Linked DNA regions of Homo sapiens: all the other regions are linked to region 1. The links come from fine-mapping of genetic effects on gene expression. A gene starts in region 1. Each other region holds a variant in brackets. All regions are shown on one strand. Distances are from middle to middle.

Evidence for each region.
Region 2: its variant is fine-mapped to the expression of MYBL1 in whole blood (TOPMed, PIP 0.95).
Region 3: its variant is fine-mapped to the expression of MYBL1 in whole blood (INTERVAL, PIP 0.90).

The regions. Positions count from the first base shown.
Region 1 is chr8:66,611,209-66,616,208 of GRCh38, reverse strand. MYBL1 (MYB proto-oncogene like 1) reads left to right here and starts at 2,991. Exons shown (of 16, transcript NM_001080416.4): 1 at 2,991-3,390. The coding sequence starts at 3,371. It overlaps LOC105375884 (a long non-coding RNA gene), which reads right to left and starts at 2,660. Exons shown (of 2, transcript XR_929015.3): 1 at 2,557-2,660; 2 at 351-2,164. RefSeq lists enhancers at 2,145-2,194, 2,205-2,284, 2,335-2,474 and a silencer at 2,705-3,224.
Region 2 is chr8:66,545,259-66,551,053 of GRCh38, reverse strand. No RefSeq gene overlaps it. Among named protein-coding and RNA genes, the nearest start is that of VXN, 55 kb to the right of the region's middle. RefSeq lists an enhancer at 4,194-4,243. The variant A/G (reference allele first, on the strand shown) is at 3,889.
Region 3 is chr8:66,531,635-66,536,634 of GRCh38, reverse strand. All of the region lies in intron 1 of LOC124901955 (a long non-coding RNA gene), which reads left to right. Among named protein-coding and RNA genes, the nearest start is that of VXN, 41 kb to the right of the region's middle. The variant T/C (reference allele first, on the strand shown) is at 2,860.

The DNA.
Region 1 (5,000 bases):
GAGGCGGGAGGATCACCTGAGGTCAGGAGTTCCAGACCAGGCTGGTCAACATGGTGAGACCCCATCTCTACTAAAAATACAAAAAATTAGCCTGGGGTGGCAGGATAATTTCTTGAACCCGGGAGGTAGAGGTTGCAGTGAGCCAAGATCATGCCACTGGACTCCAGCCTGGGTGACAGAGTGAGACTCTGTCTCAAAAAACAAAAACCACAAAAATTAGCCGGGCATGGTGACACATGCCTGTAATCCCAGCTGCTTGGGAGGCTGAGGCACAAGAATTGCTTGAACATGGGAGGTGGAGGTTGCAGTGAGTGGTGATCGCGCCAATGCACTCCAGCCTGGGTGACAGAGTGACTGTCTAAAAAAAAAAAAAAAAAAAAAAAAAAAGACCTACTATTTGACAGCACAAGTTGACTAGAGTCAATAACTTGATTGTAGATTTTAAAATAACTAAAATTTATAATAACTAAAAGTAACACAAAGGATAAATACTCAAGGGGATGGATACCCCATCTCCATGATGTGATTATTTCACATTGCATGCCTGTATCAAAACATCTCATGTACCCCACAAATATATACACCTACTATGTACCCACAAAAATTAAAAAACAAACAAAACAAAGCCACTATAAATGTTTTGCAAAATGGCTGAATTCTGCATGCCTAACAGCAATGTATGCAAGTTGTACTTGCTCAGCATTTTCATCTTCACCAACATTTGTATAGTCAGTCATTTTCCCCGCTCATTCTAACAGAAGTGTAGTCTAGTATCTCATTGTGGTTTAATTTGCATTTCTCTAATGACTAATGAGGTGGAACATCATTTAATATGCCTGTCGTGTGTGTGTGTGTGTGTGTGTGTGTGTGTGTGTGTGTGTATGTATATATATATCTCGTTTGGTGAAATCTGTTTAAATCTTTTGCCCATTTTTTAAATGCTTTTTTTCTCACTGAGTTTTGAGAGTTCTTTATATACTCTGAATAAAATCTCTAAACGTTTGCTTAAAAAAAAACTCATCTTAGTTTAGAATACATCTGAGTATGTGTATTCAAATGACTGTGAACCACTTTAATTCCACACTTTGCCCTGAGTTTTATAACTGATTTCAGTAATTTCACAATGTTATCTTTCTGGGAATTGCTTTTCTCTATATGTAAAAATGAGGGAAATTTGTTTTACTGTCAAAATCTAAAACATTTGTCTTCAAGCTCTAAAAAAGGTATTCTGTATAAAACTGAATACAGCCTAAAATATAGCAGAAGCTCTGCTTCCTGTTAGATATAAATAAGTGAAGTAATGTACGACCCAGGGGTAAATAAGAAAACAGTGAAACAGTGATTCCAAATGACATTGGGAACATAATGAAATTTGGGAACTCATTTCTAAATTATTTTTTATTTTTTTATTTTTACTGAACCAGCAACCCAGTAAGGAATGATCTGGAAGAAACGCTTGGCCAGGTGTTGTGGCGCGCGCCTGTAGTCCCAGCTACTTTGGAGGCTGAGGCAAGAGGATCGCTGTTCGAGGCTACTGTAAGCTATGATTGTGCCACTGCACTCCAGCATGGGGAATAGAGTGAGACCTAGTCTCAAAAAAAAAACAACAAAAAAAAAAACAGGAGAGAAAAAGAAAAGCTGTTTTATCTTCCCTTACCTTCCCAGAATCTATACCTTGAAAAAAGGAACTGTTAAAAAAAAAAAAGCCAGTGTGTTTAGGTTTTGACAGCAGTGCATGCAAGCTTCTCTCTTAATTCAGCTCCTCTTAATTCACTCTGCACCTGCATCTGATTTGCAAAAGATGAAGCGTAAAATTTCAAAATAGCAAGTGTTTGTTACAGTGTTAACATGTGGCTCAGTGCTCTATGCAATAGACCATGTTGCCTTGCAAATTTTCCTTAGCCAAGTGTAATTGTTACTGTAGCAAATCTACTTTAATGCTACTTGAAATGAACAGTTCGTAGTTATTAGACTGGAACCTCAAGTAGCTGCAACCGCTAGAAACTCCTCCGGTGGTTCCCCCCTCCCTGGTCTCTCCAGAGGGAAGAAGGTCACCTTCTACACTTAACTACCATGCTCATTCATCTGGACGAAATGCCCAGTCCACTGTCTTCTTCACGCGTTATTCTCCAGGACAGGGCTCCTCCGCCGCGCACGTTATTTCCTGTAGAGCGGGCACGAAATTAAGCACCTTGAAGACCAGCGGTAGACACAGATTATCTCCGGTTCCAAGCACGTCTCCCGCTAGGAACTTTTTTCACTTGTCACTCTTCTGCTGCTTTTTGAGGAAAACAGGTGATATTTGGTTTCCTGCCAGAGTCTTCGTCACTCTCGTAACTATGATGTCTGGGTAAAAATAGCTCACATTTTTGCTTAAAAAATAACGGCCGCGCAAATTTATGGTTAGATTTGTCTCAAGTCTGAAGACCGCGCATCCTAACTAGTGAGGCGGAAGACACCTAAGGAGCCAGGAGCTGTCGCCGAGGCGAGGCTGCGGAGACGTTCCCTTGGTGGGCCGCGGGACCACCCACCCCGCCAGAAACTCGGTTCGCTCACCCTAAGAATTTTGGGGCAACTGGACTTCTCCACCGCCCGCTTCCGGACCCGCTCCGGCGCCGCTTCCGGACCCACTCCTCGGCGAGCGCAGGAACTCGCTCTCCCAGCAGGCCCCGCGCGGTGCGCCTCTCGGCGCGTTCCGGGTCCTATGACAGCTCGGCTCGCATGCGCCACCTACGGCCCCACCCGCGGCCCCACCCCCTGGCTCCCGGCTCCTTCCCCGACTCCCGCGAGTTCCAGTCCCAGCTTCCAGCTCCCCAGCCCCGCCCTCAGCCGCGCGCGCTCTCCCCTCCCCGCCCTCGCTTCTTCGCGTGCGGCCCCCACAGCCAATGAGGTTCAGGGCCGCGTGCGCAGATTCAAACGGCGGCTCTTGAGGGAGGCTGGGCGCGAGATTCGGCGGTGCGGACAAAACCCTGCAGGAGACTGCGAGCCCTGCAGAACTGCTAGCTGCGGGGGAGAGGGCAGGGGTCGGGCGCCTGTGGCGGAGCCGGGCTGGGGCCAGGGCAGGGAGGCTGACAAGCGGCGGGAGAAGCCGGCGGAGGGCGGGATCGCGCCTCCTGACATGTTGGGGGTATCCCTGGCCGGGCCGGGCCGGGGCTAAGAGCGGCGCTGCGGGCCGGGGTCGGGGTCGGGTCGCGGTCCGCCCCCGCTGTCCCTCCGTCCTGCCCTGTCGAGGACGTGCGTTCCGCACTCGGCCGCCTCCAGAGGGAGCGAGGGAAGCGGCTAGAGGATCGGGGAGAAGGAGCATTCGCCGGAGGCTGGAGGAGGCTGACCCGCGTCCCCGCCCAGCCTGCTCCTATGCGGTACTTGAAGGATGGCGAAGAGGTCGCGCAGGTGGGTGGCACCCCTTTCGCCCAGGCCTGTCGGCGCCGTCTCGGCTCAGATTCTCTTTCCTATCCCGCTGCCCCCTCCCGCCATAAGGCCCTCCCTGGCGAGGGCAGAGGTTTTTCTTCCCGCGTCCCCGCGGCCGCTTGGCCTCGATGACCGGAGGGCAGCTGCGACGTGTGGAGAGTTGGGGACCAGGGTGTTTGAGGCGCGGGACGTAAGAGATGCCCAGGTTTCTCGGTGACTCTCCCCGTAATGCGCGTCCAGATTTCTGACCTCATGCTGCCACTTCTTCGAGGCAGGTTTCTTGCCAGGTAAGTCGAGCGCTTTTAGGGAGTCCGCTACGCAGAGAAAACTGACTGTGTCCTGCCGGGAGGACTTGAAAATGGTGTTCGGGCGACTCTTTTCTGAATGACGGTACAGTCAAAATAGGAACTCCGCGGTGAACCTGGGCGGCCACCCCTCTGCCAACTTGGCTATCTTGAAACGTTGTGGAAAATCCTCTGGGGAATAGCTGAGAGGACTTTTTTGATGTTTTCTGTAATTCCTATACCCATATGCTCAGCTTTATGTATATATGTATATTTTAATATCCTCTCTTGGGACCATGTCACATAGTAACAACTAGTAGTAACAACTAGTAGCTTGATCTTGAAATAAAACAATGTGTTTGATTCACTTAATATTTTGAGTGTCTGTGTTTGGCTCTGACCGTACCTAAGTGTTCCACAGAGGTAAGGCACTTTTTTCCACCTTTGCCTGGAAAATGTGCTAGGATGAATTTATGCATCTAATTTTCGTTTACATGCCATTACAGCAGCTACTCATAAATTATGTGGAGTAATTGCTTAGATAACAAAAATATAGGATGTCTTCCGATTTTCAGCATTATCAAATAAACCTGAAAAGATGTTTGGCAGGATTTCCAAATATTTATTTATCTAGATCCACAGCCCCAAAATCTTAACTAGAGATGTATTTCCTAAGTTGAAATTTAGTAATGGGGGTCATTCATTGCAGAGTTCTGCTAAAAATTGGCAGTAACTATACATAATTGTTTTTTCCTTAGTTTTCTGTTAAGCATCTGCTGTGTGCAGGATGCTTCTGCAGAAATCCTTAAGTCTCTGTAAGCTTATTAGTTTTGAAGTAAGTTATAGGACAAACTCTTGAGATGAAATAAATGTGTACACAGACCCCTCTAAAACTGTTTTCAGCCTTTGCACTATTGACATCTTGGACCAGATAATTCTTTGTAATGGGGAGATGTTTAGCAGCATCGCTGGCTTCTACCCAGTAGAGATAGTAACACTCCACTTCCCTCAGTCATGACAGTAAAAATGTCTCCAGACATTGCCAAATATCTTTTGGGGGACAAAATCACCCAGGAAAGAACCACCCTTCTAGAACTTCAAGGACCCAATTAACATCAATCTTCAGAAAAGATAGATATTTAAAGCTCTTGTAATTATGATTGCCGAAGTACTGGTTTAGGCTTTTTGAATTTTTAAATATAAAAAAATTTAAAAATAAGATGACAATTGAATATGTTAACTCAATAACAAGTTTATTAATGTGTGATATTATCTACTTATCAGTATTGATGTTAATCTTATTTGAAA
Region 2 (5,795 bases), 66 kb after region 1:
CTTGCTGGTGGAGAAAGAATAGCATTGTTTCCCTAGAAAGAATAGCGTGTTTCCCTAGACCATAATACAAATTAAGGGTTGGGAGGTGGGCGGGATAGGAACATAGAGTGAATGGAATTCATTAGATCATTGCAATACCAAATATTGCCTGAATTCTAGAATTCAGTTTGAGATTTTTAAAAATCAATCTTTCAATCTGGGCAAATAATTAGAAATAAATGTTTTTCTTTGTTAAACAATAAATTGTATTGTATATATTTGAGGCTTAAAACATGATATTGGCTGGGCATGGTGGCTCATGCCTGTAATCCCAGCACTTTGGGAGGCTGAGGTGGCCAGATTGCTTGAGTCCAGGAGTTTGAGACTAGCCTGGGCAACATGGCGAAACCCTGTCTCTACTAAAAAAACAAAAAAATTAGCTGGGTGCCTGTAGTCCCAGCTACTCAGGAGGCTGAGGTAGGAGGATCACCTGAGGCCAGGCGGTTGAGACTACAGTGAGCTGAGATTGCGCCACACCACTGCTCTCCAGTGGGGGCTACAGGAGTGAGATCCTGTCTCAAAACAAAACAAAACAAAGCAAAACAAAACAAAACAAACCGTGATATTAAAGGATATGTATAGATAGTAAAATTGATACTATAGTAAAGCAAATTAACATATACATTATCTCACATAGTTCCTTTTTTGTGTGTGACAAGAGCAGCTAAAAATCTTATTTAACAAAAATTCCCAATACAGTACAATTTTATTAACTTTGGTCCTCACATTGTACTTGCTACATCTCCCTATTTTCTCTCCCTTCCCCTCCTCACTTGTCCCTGTTCTCTATCTTTGTGTATTTGGGTTTTTTTTTTTTTTAAGATTCCACATGTAAGTAAGATCATGCAGTATTTTTTCTTTCTGTGTCTGGCTTATTTCACTTAGCAAGGTGTCATCCAGGTCCTTTCCATCCATGTTGTGGGAAATGGCAGGATCTCTCTCTCTCTCTCTTTTTTAAAGATGGAGTTTTGCTGGAGTGCAGTGGTGTGATCATAGCTCACTGCAGCCTCAAACTCCTGGGCTCAAGTGATGTTTGAACTTTAGCCTCCTGAGTAGCTGGGACTACAGTCATGCACCACCACACTCAGCTAATTTTTTTTTTTTTTTGGAAAGATGGGGATCTCGCTATGTTGCCCAGGCTGGTCTCAAACTCCTGGCTTAAAGTGTCTTCTTACCTTGGCCTCCCAAAGCGCTGGAATTATAGGCATGTGTCACCATGCCCATCCAGGATCTCCTTTCTGTAGCTGAGTACAAACAAGCATTTCAAAAATTTCGTTGTCTATATGAAAGGCAATTATATTTTGGGTGAAGCTATACTTTTATTTGAGAAAAGTTGGTGGGCATAATAAGTTTTTAAGTAAAACAAAAGTTAATTAACTTATAGAATGGTCATTCATTCTGAGAACACATTCTTTCTATTTTTGGGGTGTCTGCATAATAATCTTTCTTTCTGAAACAATGAGGATAGTCCTAATTTGGCAATATATGCCAAACCCCAAACCTATTCTCCAAACCCCTAATATTTTTGAAATCTTACAGGCACATGAAATCCAGAATTTGGGGAACCACTCCTGGGGTTCTTGAATAAGAAACCCCCATCCCTAGAAAGATCTCTTTCACTCTCTTCCAGCATTTCCTTGACTGTTCATGTTCTTGAATATGTTCGGTGGCCAGTGAACTATGACACAAAGCTTGGTGGGAAGTAAGATTTAGCTCTCATTGCCATTGTTTTGTTGGCATGTTGATATCAGAAACTCTAGTCACAGTAGTTGACGGGAGTAGTTGATTTTATATTAAATGGATAAGAGCATGGTTAATGGTACATTTCAGTTAAACGGGGCATTGCAGCCATGATGGGGTCTCTTTGGGTTCTGTGATGAAAGACAGTGAATTAGCAGTTTCAAGCCTGGAATCCTCACACAGAATGTCAAGCCGTGGTAAAGAACAAAGGGGCCCATGGGAAAACAAGCCACTGCATTCTTAGCAGCTGCCTGGATTTTCTTCTCTTATTATAACCCAGTGGCAATGGTTTTAAATGACAACACAGGATATCTATTTAGTAATAACCACAAAAAGAAAGTAGCTGAGGAGGTAGAATGCTTGGTTGGGTGATAGTGATGAGAGGAACCCTGGAGGCAGAATGTCTGTGGGCCATGTAATTAAATCATCAGATGTCAGCTATCGACTTTCTCCCACATTGTAAGGACAGAGCTATCTTCTCACTTATGGTTATTTCTCCTCATTTTTGTGAAAACATAAAATGCAGTGTGTTCTGGAAAAAAAATACTAAAGTACTATTACAGTGGATAGCTAGTCAGACACGAGCAGGGCAGGAAAGGCCCCCCGCCAACCCTGTGTTCACCAGAAATGTCAGGCAACCATGAGGTGATGGTCAGGTGGTTATTAAACTGTCTCTCTAAAATAATAATTGTGGCCAGGGGCAGTGGCTCACTCCTGTAATCCCAGCATTTTGAGAGGCAGAGGTGGGAGGATCACTGAGACCAGCCTGGGCAATATAGTGAGACCTCGTCTCTATAAAAAAAAATTGGTCACAACCAGCACCAGGCAAAGGCAGTCTCCCAATAGATAGAAACACCTGAAACTGGTGATTAGCAGCTTCCCAATAAGATCTTAGGAGTTGGGTGAGCAGGCTCCAGCATGAGCACTAAGAGGCAAAATGACGGAGTTTAAGTGCTATATGACCTTCCTCCAGGAACACTTGACTGGTAAGGCAAAAATGCTTCAAGTGAGCATGTACAACACCAGTAAACACTGCTCCTGGGGCTCCTCTCAACTGCTGGGAGTCCACTGAGCTGTGGACAGCCCACCCCAGGGGAAGAATCAGGGGAGAAGAGAGCAAAACCCCAGAAACATGCCAATGTATAAGACCCCAAGTCAAAGGTCAAACAGGGCACTTGAATCTGTGAAGTCACCACTTGGCCCTCTTCCAAGTGTACTTTACTTTCTTTCCTTCCTACTCCAAAATTTCTTTAAAAAACTTTCACTCCTGCTCTAAAACTTGCCTGGGTCTGTCACTCTGCCTTATGCCCCTCGGTTGAATTCTTCTGAGGAGGCAAGAATTGAGGTTGCTGCAGACCCCTATGGATTTGAGGCTGCTAACAGTACTATTATGCTCAAGAATATGGTCATTATTTTATAATCCCCACTTATTTTCCTAAGGCTTGAGAGGAAGTCATTTCCTGAGACAGATATAAGTTATTACAGCATTGAATTGTTGAGAAAAAGAAAGAGAGTTAGAGAATATATGTTTGGGGTTTTGTACATTAAATAACTCATATAATAGCTCAAGATATGCATGACTTCCATTATATAAATAAAAATAATCCAATTACTGTGGTGTTGGTTACACAACTCTGTGAGTTTATAAAATTTTTTTATTTTTTTTGAGGCAGGGTCTCACTCTGTCTCCCAGGCTGGAGTGCAGTGGCACAATCACAGCTCGTTGCAGCCTTGACCTCCTGAGCTCAAGTGATCCTCCTGCCTCAGCCTCCCGAGCAGCTGGGACTATAGGTCTATACCACCATGCCTAGCTAATTTTTGTATATTTTTTTATAGCAGTGAGGTTTTGCCATGTCATCCAGGCTGGTCTTGAACTCCTGGGCTCAAGCAATTCACTGGCCTCCTAAAATGCTGGAATTATAGGCATGAGCCAGCATGCCCAGCCTATCAAAAATTATTGAATTGAATACTCGAAATGAGTGAATTTAATGGTATGTAAATTATGCCTCAATAAAGCTGTTAAAAATTAATTGGTTTGTTTGGCATGTATAACCAATAAAATGTAACAAAAGAAGATAGCAGCAAAACATTTTTAAAAAGCCATAACTT[A/G]GTTCACATCCATGTGTAATATTGTAGGCTATAGAGGGATGGTCAAAAGTGAGAATCTGATATTGAATCACATGAGAAATATGAAAAAATTTGCATTTTTAGTTTGAAGAGTGCTCTGAAAGCTTTGACCCGTGTAACCACCCCAGTTCTGTATTCAGTGTTCAGCAATGACTCCAACAGGTTCTGAGGTACTAACAGGAACCATGGACAAGAAAGAGTTTATAGGGGAGGGTGACTCAGAGGGTTTTTGTTGACTTAAGAGTAGCTGTGGCCAGTAATCTCAGCACTTCAGGAGGCTTAGGCAGGAGGATTGCTTGAACGCAGGAGTTTGAGACCAGCCTGGGCAAAAATGTGAGACCCTTTCTCTACAGAAATGTTTAAAAATCAGCCAGGTGTGGTGGTGCACACCTGTAGTCCCAGCTACTTGGGAGGCTGAGGTGGGAGGATTGCTTGAACCCAGGAGGTTGAGGCTGCTGTGAGCCATGATTGCACCACTGCACTCCAGCCTGGGTGATGGAGTAAGAACCTGTCTTAGAAAAAAAAAAAAAAAAAAAGAGAAAGAGCAGCTGTAACTGGAATGGTCATATAATTTACTATGTAAACTAAGGACAGTTTGGAACTTGAAATGTGATGCTATCCATAATCATACAGGAACAATAAACATAAGCAAGTCATATGCAAAGTCACTCTACCTCTAATCTTGTGTTTGATAATATAACAAATATTTGGCCCCAGAGAGTGGCTCATGCCTGTAGTCTCAGCACTTTGAGAGACTGAGGAAGGAAGGTCACTTGAGTCCAGGAGTTCAAGGCCAGACTGGGCAACAAGTGAGACTCTGTCTCTACAAAAAATAGAATAAATTACTAGGTGTGGTGGTGTGCACCTGTAGTCCCAGCTACTTAGCTGAGGTGGGAGGATCACTTGAGCCCAAGAGGTTGAGGCTGCAGTAAGCCACAACAACAAGAGGTTGAGGTGTGCAATAGGCACACCACTGCACTCTAGCCTAGGCTACAAAGCAAGACTTTGTCTCAAAAAAAAAAAAATTCTATGTAACTCTTGATTGGTTTTATAGGTAGGATTTGGAATTGGAAGGCTTATATAGAAGACTTTCGGGGCTTTGATTTCCTCAATTCTAAAACAGAGAATCTTATTCCTTTTCCCTTCCTTCCTTCCTTCCTTCCTTCCTTCCTTCCTTCCTTCCTTCCTTCCTTCCTTCCCTCCCTCCCTCCCTCCCTCCCTCCCTCCCTCTTTCCTTCCCTCCTTCCTTCCTTCCTTCCATCCTTTCCTCCCTCCCTCCTTCCTTCCCTCCCTCCCTCCTTCCTTCCCTCCCTCCCTTCCTCCCTCCCTCCTTCCTTCCTTTCCTCCTTCCTTCCTTCCTTCCCTCCTCCCTTCCTTCCTTCCTTCCTTCCCTCCTTCCTTCCTTCCCTCCCTCCCTCCTTCCCTCCATCCCTCCTCTCCTTCCTTCCCTCCCTCCCCTCCTTCCTCCAACATGTATTTATTGAGCTCCTACTATATATTTTTAAAGTTCTGTGCTAGGGATTCAGGAGATAGAAATAATCATTTCTAGCCCCAGTAACTCCTAGTCTACTTTCAGAAATGGAGTCACTGGCTGAGTGCAGTGGCTCACAACTGTAATCCTAGCACTTTGAGAGGCGAGGCAGGCGGCTCACATGAGGCCAAGAGTTTGAGACCAGCCTGGCCAACATGGGGAAACCCTGTCTCTACTAAAAATACAAAAATCAGCCAGGTGTGATGGCGTGCACCTGTAGTCCCAGCTACTTGGGTGGCTAAGGCAAGAGAATTGTTTGAACCAGGGAGGTGGAGGTTGCAGTGAGCTGAGATCTCACCATTGCACTTCAGTCCAGGTGACAGAGCAAGACCTTGTTAAAAAAAAAAAAAAAAGGAAG
Region 3 (5,000 bases), 80 kb after region 1:
TCTGTCATCTGTGGTTTTGTTTATGCTCTTTGCTTTGCCTAAAACACCTTTTCTTTGTCTAGCTAGTGACCTCTTACTCCTGGCCCTGCCCAAGCCCAGCTCCCCTGGGTCCTTCTGATGCCCCAGGCAGAACTCATCAGTTCTCCTCCCCAGCCCTGCCTCTTTGCTCCTCTTGGGTTTCTGCACTGATCACATTGCATCATCACGGGAGCTCAATCCGTCTGCCCACCTGCCTTCTCCTTTGTGTCTTCGGCATTCAGTGAGCGCTCAACTTATGGTTGTTGAAGAAATGAAGTCAAGAGGAGAGCACTTTAACTGACTGCTGTTTATTATGCTTCTTCCTTTCTCCTGGCAATCAGGAGTTCCCATCGTTCCAGTACCTACTGTGTGCCAATGTCATTACCTCCCTATCTTATTTTGTGCCTCACAATTTCTCTGTGCAGTAGGTGTTATCTTCATTTTACACAAAGACACCGAGAGTTAGGGAAGTTAAAGCACTTGCCCCAGAGGTTTCTGAAATGTTTGACTGCAGACTTGGGGCCCAGAAATCAACCATCCTCTAGAAGTTGGTGCTCTGGAAGCCCAAGTTCCGTCAAGTGCTCACTGATTGCCTGTGGCTTCTTCATAAGGGCCGGGAGCTGTCAGTGGCCTCTGAGTCACTCATTCCTGAAACAAGACTTCAGATGTTTAATGGAATTTCCCCTTCCTTTCCTGTTGCTGGCATATTCATGACTCAAGTGGAGGGCACAGTTAGTAGGGAGCTTGCTGACTTGATAGGTACAGCATTGAGGGTGGGGCAATGTTTCTAAACCACAAGCAGCCAAATTATTTCCCCTTTCAAGAGAGGTTTTGCTGGCCATGCTCATGTAGTCATCTGGTGCAAACATTTTCAAAAGGTTTTTTTTTTTTTTCTTCTTTTTCTGTTAATTTTAAATACAAGTGATTTCACGCTTTCTTGTTTAGAGTTTCAGATAGGTTGCAGCTGTAGGGTATTGGACCGATATGGGATCAAAGCAGACAGAAACACACTTAGTGTCTGTGTGACCTTGAGCAAGTTATTGAACCTCTCTAAGCCTCCAATTTCTCATTTAGAAAATGAGGTTGCTGGGAGGACTACATGAGAATGTGTATTTGTGAAAACCGGGGATGAGCCGATACCAGCCACTCACAAATGTAAGGTCCCCCATCTTCTAGTTTTCCCTAATATGTATCTCTCCTTGCAATCCTGCTCAAGCATTGACTGCTTCAGCAATTCCAGAAACAGGCAATATATAAATTACAAGTAAATATTCAATGATGTGTCTCACTATTTAAATAAGGCTGCCCTTTAGGATTCAGCTTCTTCTCCAGAAAAACATGGGCCATTGTGAAATGAAGTGAAAGTGTGAAATGAAGTGAAAGTGAAAGGAAGTCAAGTGAAATTCACTCACTCACTGACAATTTAGGGCCAATTGGACTGATAGCATCTGAATTCCCTGTGTTTTTTTTTTTTTTCCTCTACCCTAACCTATGGTAATCTGAGATAGGGACCCAGGAATTTGTATTTCTACAAACTCATCAGGTGATTCTTGTAAAGATTAAGGCTTTAGGGTGACTCAATTGCTTTTCCTAAACTCACTAACAAAAGGTGCTATAGGCTGGGCATGATGGCTCACATCTGTAATCCCAACACTTTGGGGGGCTGAGGTGGGAGGATTGCTTGAGCCCAGGAGTTTGAGAACAGCTTAGGCAACGTGGTGAGACCTGGCCTCAACAACAACAACAACAACAACACAAAATTAGCCGATTGTGATGGTTTGTGGCTGTATTTCAAGTTACTTGGGAGGCTGAGTTGAAAGTATTCCTTGAGCCCGAGAGTTCAGGGCTGCAGTGAGCTATGATTGCAACACTGCACTCCAGCCTGGGCAACAGAGCAAAACCCAGTCACACACACACACCCACACACACATGCGCGCGCGCGTGCTATTCCAGAGAGCCAATCTCCTTGCTCTGGTCATGTCACAGCCCTTTCTTTAGGAGACCCCAGACCCACATTTGGCACTTGTCATACCCCTTGCAGGTTTCTGGAGACAAACCTTTCAGTCCTGAAGGGAGTTAACTGACATGTGTTTTGATGGGAAGATCATGGAGCTGTAGAACTGATCTCTAATCACCATGGCTGCCTACAGCACCAGGGTTTTAAAGCACAGTATATAAGTAAAAGCAAGAAAAAGATTGAGTTTGATAATTCTGGTATTGATATCTGGTGTTGATTTTGATAATTCAGAAATTCTGATAGTCTCTAGAGGGAATGCATAATGAGTAAATCTGCTCTGTTGAGGTGAGCATTTAATCCTGTGTGTGTGTAAAATACGACACATATTATGGCGCCACAGTATAACTGAATGTTTGATCCCCTCTGCTGCACGCTGGCTTCCCCCTGTGAAAGGTCCTTCCCCCTGTGCATGCCTCTGTTCCCTCTCCTTGGAGTGACAGGTGGGCTAGCATCTCATTAAGTCTGGGAGGGCACCTGGCATTTTGACATTATCATTTTGGCATAAGCATATTTGATACAGCCTTTTAAAAGAAGCCTAAAAAAGTCATTAAAAAACCCCACACAACACTGATTTTTTCAACTGACTTTATTATCAATAAAGGAAGAGCTTCATCCATCCCAAGCTCCATTTGGTCGCTGAACCTCCCCTCCATGCCAGTGCCCTGGATGCCTCTGAGACAGGGATCGGGGAAGGCGGGGACCAAGGCTGTGTCAGGTCCCCGGGGCAGGCAGTCGCTGATGGAAAACCACGAATAACAACACCATGATTGTGTTTACCACATGCGGGCCCTCAGGAAGTGCATCATTATGCTTGGTGAGGGTTG[T/C]TTCTTTTCTGAGAATCTGCTTGAGTCCTGAGAATTCTACATCTCACGTCCTCTGATTTTGCTCTTTGAGTTGCAACACCCATATTTTATGACAGATTTGCAAATCTGTCTATTTTTTCTAAGTTTCTTGAATATGTCAGTGGAATTATTTTTCAGACGCTAGAGGGGGCAGGGGGTAGGAGGCGAGGATACTGGAGACAATGTGATCCTTTTTCCTTAGCAACAGGCTGCCCAGAGAATGCTCAATTACATTTCTAACAGTTTTCTCAACATATTTTGTATTGGCATTAGTTAATAGGTTACATTCCTTTATGATGACGGTTTGGAGGAGGGGCATCCCCTGAAAAGCTAACCTAGTTTGAATGGACTTTTCAAAAATATTCTTAAGATTAAAACAATTTTTTTAAATAAGTAAAAATGCACATGGTTAAAACAAAAATCAAAGGCAAAACTATGGAGATGATAAAAAGACCAGTTGTTACCAGGGGTCCAGTGGAGAGAGAGAGGAAGGGAGAGATGAACAGGAAGAGAGAGCACAGAGGGTGTTTATGGCAGTGAAACTAGTCTGTCTGATCCTGAAATGGCAGATACATGTCATTACACATTTGTCGAAACCCATAGAATGTACAACATCAAAGGTGACATAATGTACATTATGGACTTTGTTTGTTTGTTTGTTTTTTGAGACAGGACCTTGCTCTGTTCCCCAGGATGGAGTGTAGTGGTGCTATCATGGCTCACTGCAGCCTCGACCTCTTGGGCTCAAGTGATCCCCCTACCTCAGCCTCCCCAGTAGCTGGGGCTACAGGCTTGCGCCACCACACCTGGCTAATTTTTTTGGTAATTTTTGGTAATTTTTGTTAAATGTACATGTTGCCCAGGCTGTCCTCAAATCCCAGTGCCTGCTTTGGCCTTCCAAAGTGTTGGGATTACAGGGGTGAGGGACCTGGCCTAGAGGACTTTAGTTATAATGTATCAATATTGGCTCATCAATTGTAACACATGTACTACACTAATATGCAAGATATTAATAATAGGGTGTGGAGGGGTGAGGGAGTATGTGAGAGCTCTGTGTTCTGCCCATTTTTTCTGTAAATCTAAAACTGCTCACAAATAAATTTTAAAACAAGATTAAAAATCAGATGCATTTGATACAAAAAATATTCAGAGTTCAAAAGGGTGTATCTTGAGCAATACTGTTCTCACTATACCTGTTCCCAAGTCCCTAAGATCCCACGCTAGAAGCAATGAATACTGCCAGTTTAGAAAATATCCGTCTGGGCCGGCCTGTTATCCCAGCATTTGGGAGGCCAAGAGGGGGTGGATCACCTGAGGTCAGGAGTTCGAGACCAGCCTGGCCAACATGGTGAAACCCCGTCTCTACTAGAAGTACAAAAATTAGCCAGGCGTGGTGGCACATGCCTGTAATCCCAGGGAGGCTGAGGCAGGAGAATTGCTTAAACCTGGGATGCGGAGGTTGCAGTGAGCCGAGATTGCGCCATTGCAGTCTGGGTGACAAGAGTAAAACTCTTGTCAAACTCTTGTCAAAAAAAAAAAAAAAAAGAAAATATCCATCTAGGGAGTTTCTCTAAGTACACATCAGCGTGATAGCCTACCTTTTTTTCACACGAATGTTGCATGTTATTTATATATTTCATTAAGAATAAATAAATTAGATGACTAATATGGAACCAAAAGCAATAGAAGGAGCAAAAATTCCCTATAAACCATGGTGGCCAGAGGCAGAGCAAGCATCAGGGATGCTTACAGGGTTCTGTGATACCAGACAGAAGGAGGCTCCATTTCATGGAGCAGTTTCCATGAGGCTCTGTCAAAATAGCTGTCCTGTCAAAATAACTGCACCACAAACACTGTAAACAGCCTGCTCCGTCTCTGATTAGAGAGTCGTATGGGGATTGTATGAAACCTGTGGGGTCTAATGAGGGCTGTTCTCTTTAAAACCGTGGCAAGCAGTCCATTCATTCCGGTGACGTCATCTCCCAAATGTCTTTGGAACCTCTCCTTAGTAATTGCCCTTCAGAGTCTGCAGAACAATTTGTTTTCTTGCAGTTTTTTAAATAGCAAAGCCCTTTTAGACCCTAAGAGCGCAAGCCCTGAGACACCTGGTAGATCTGCTTGTG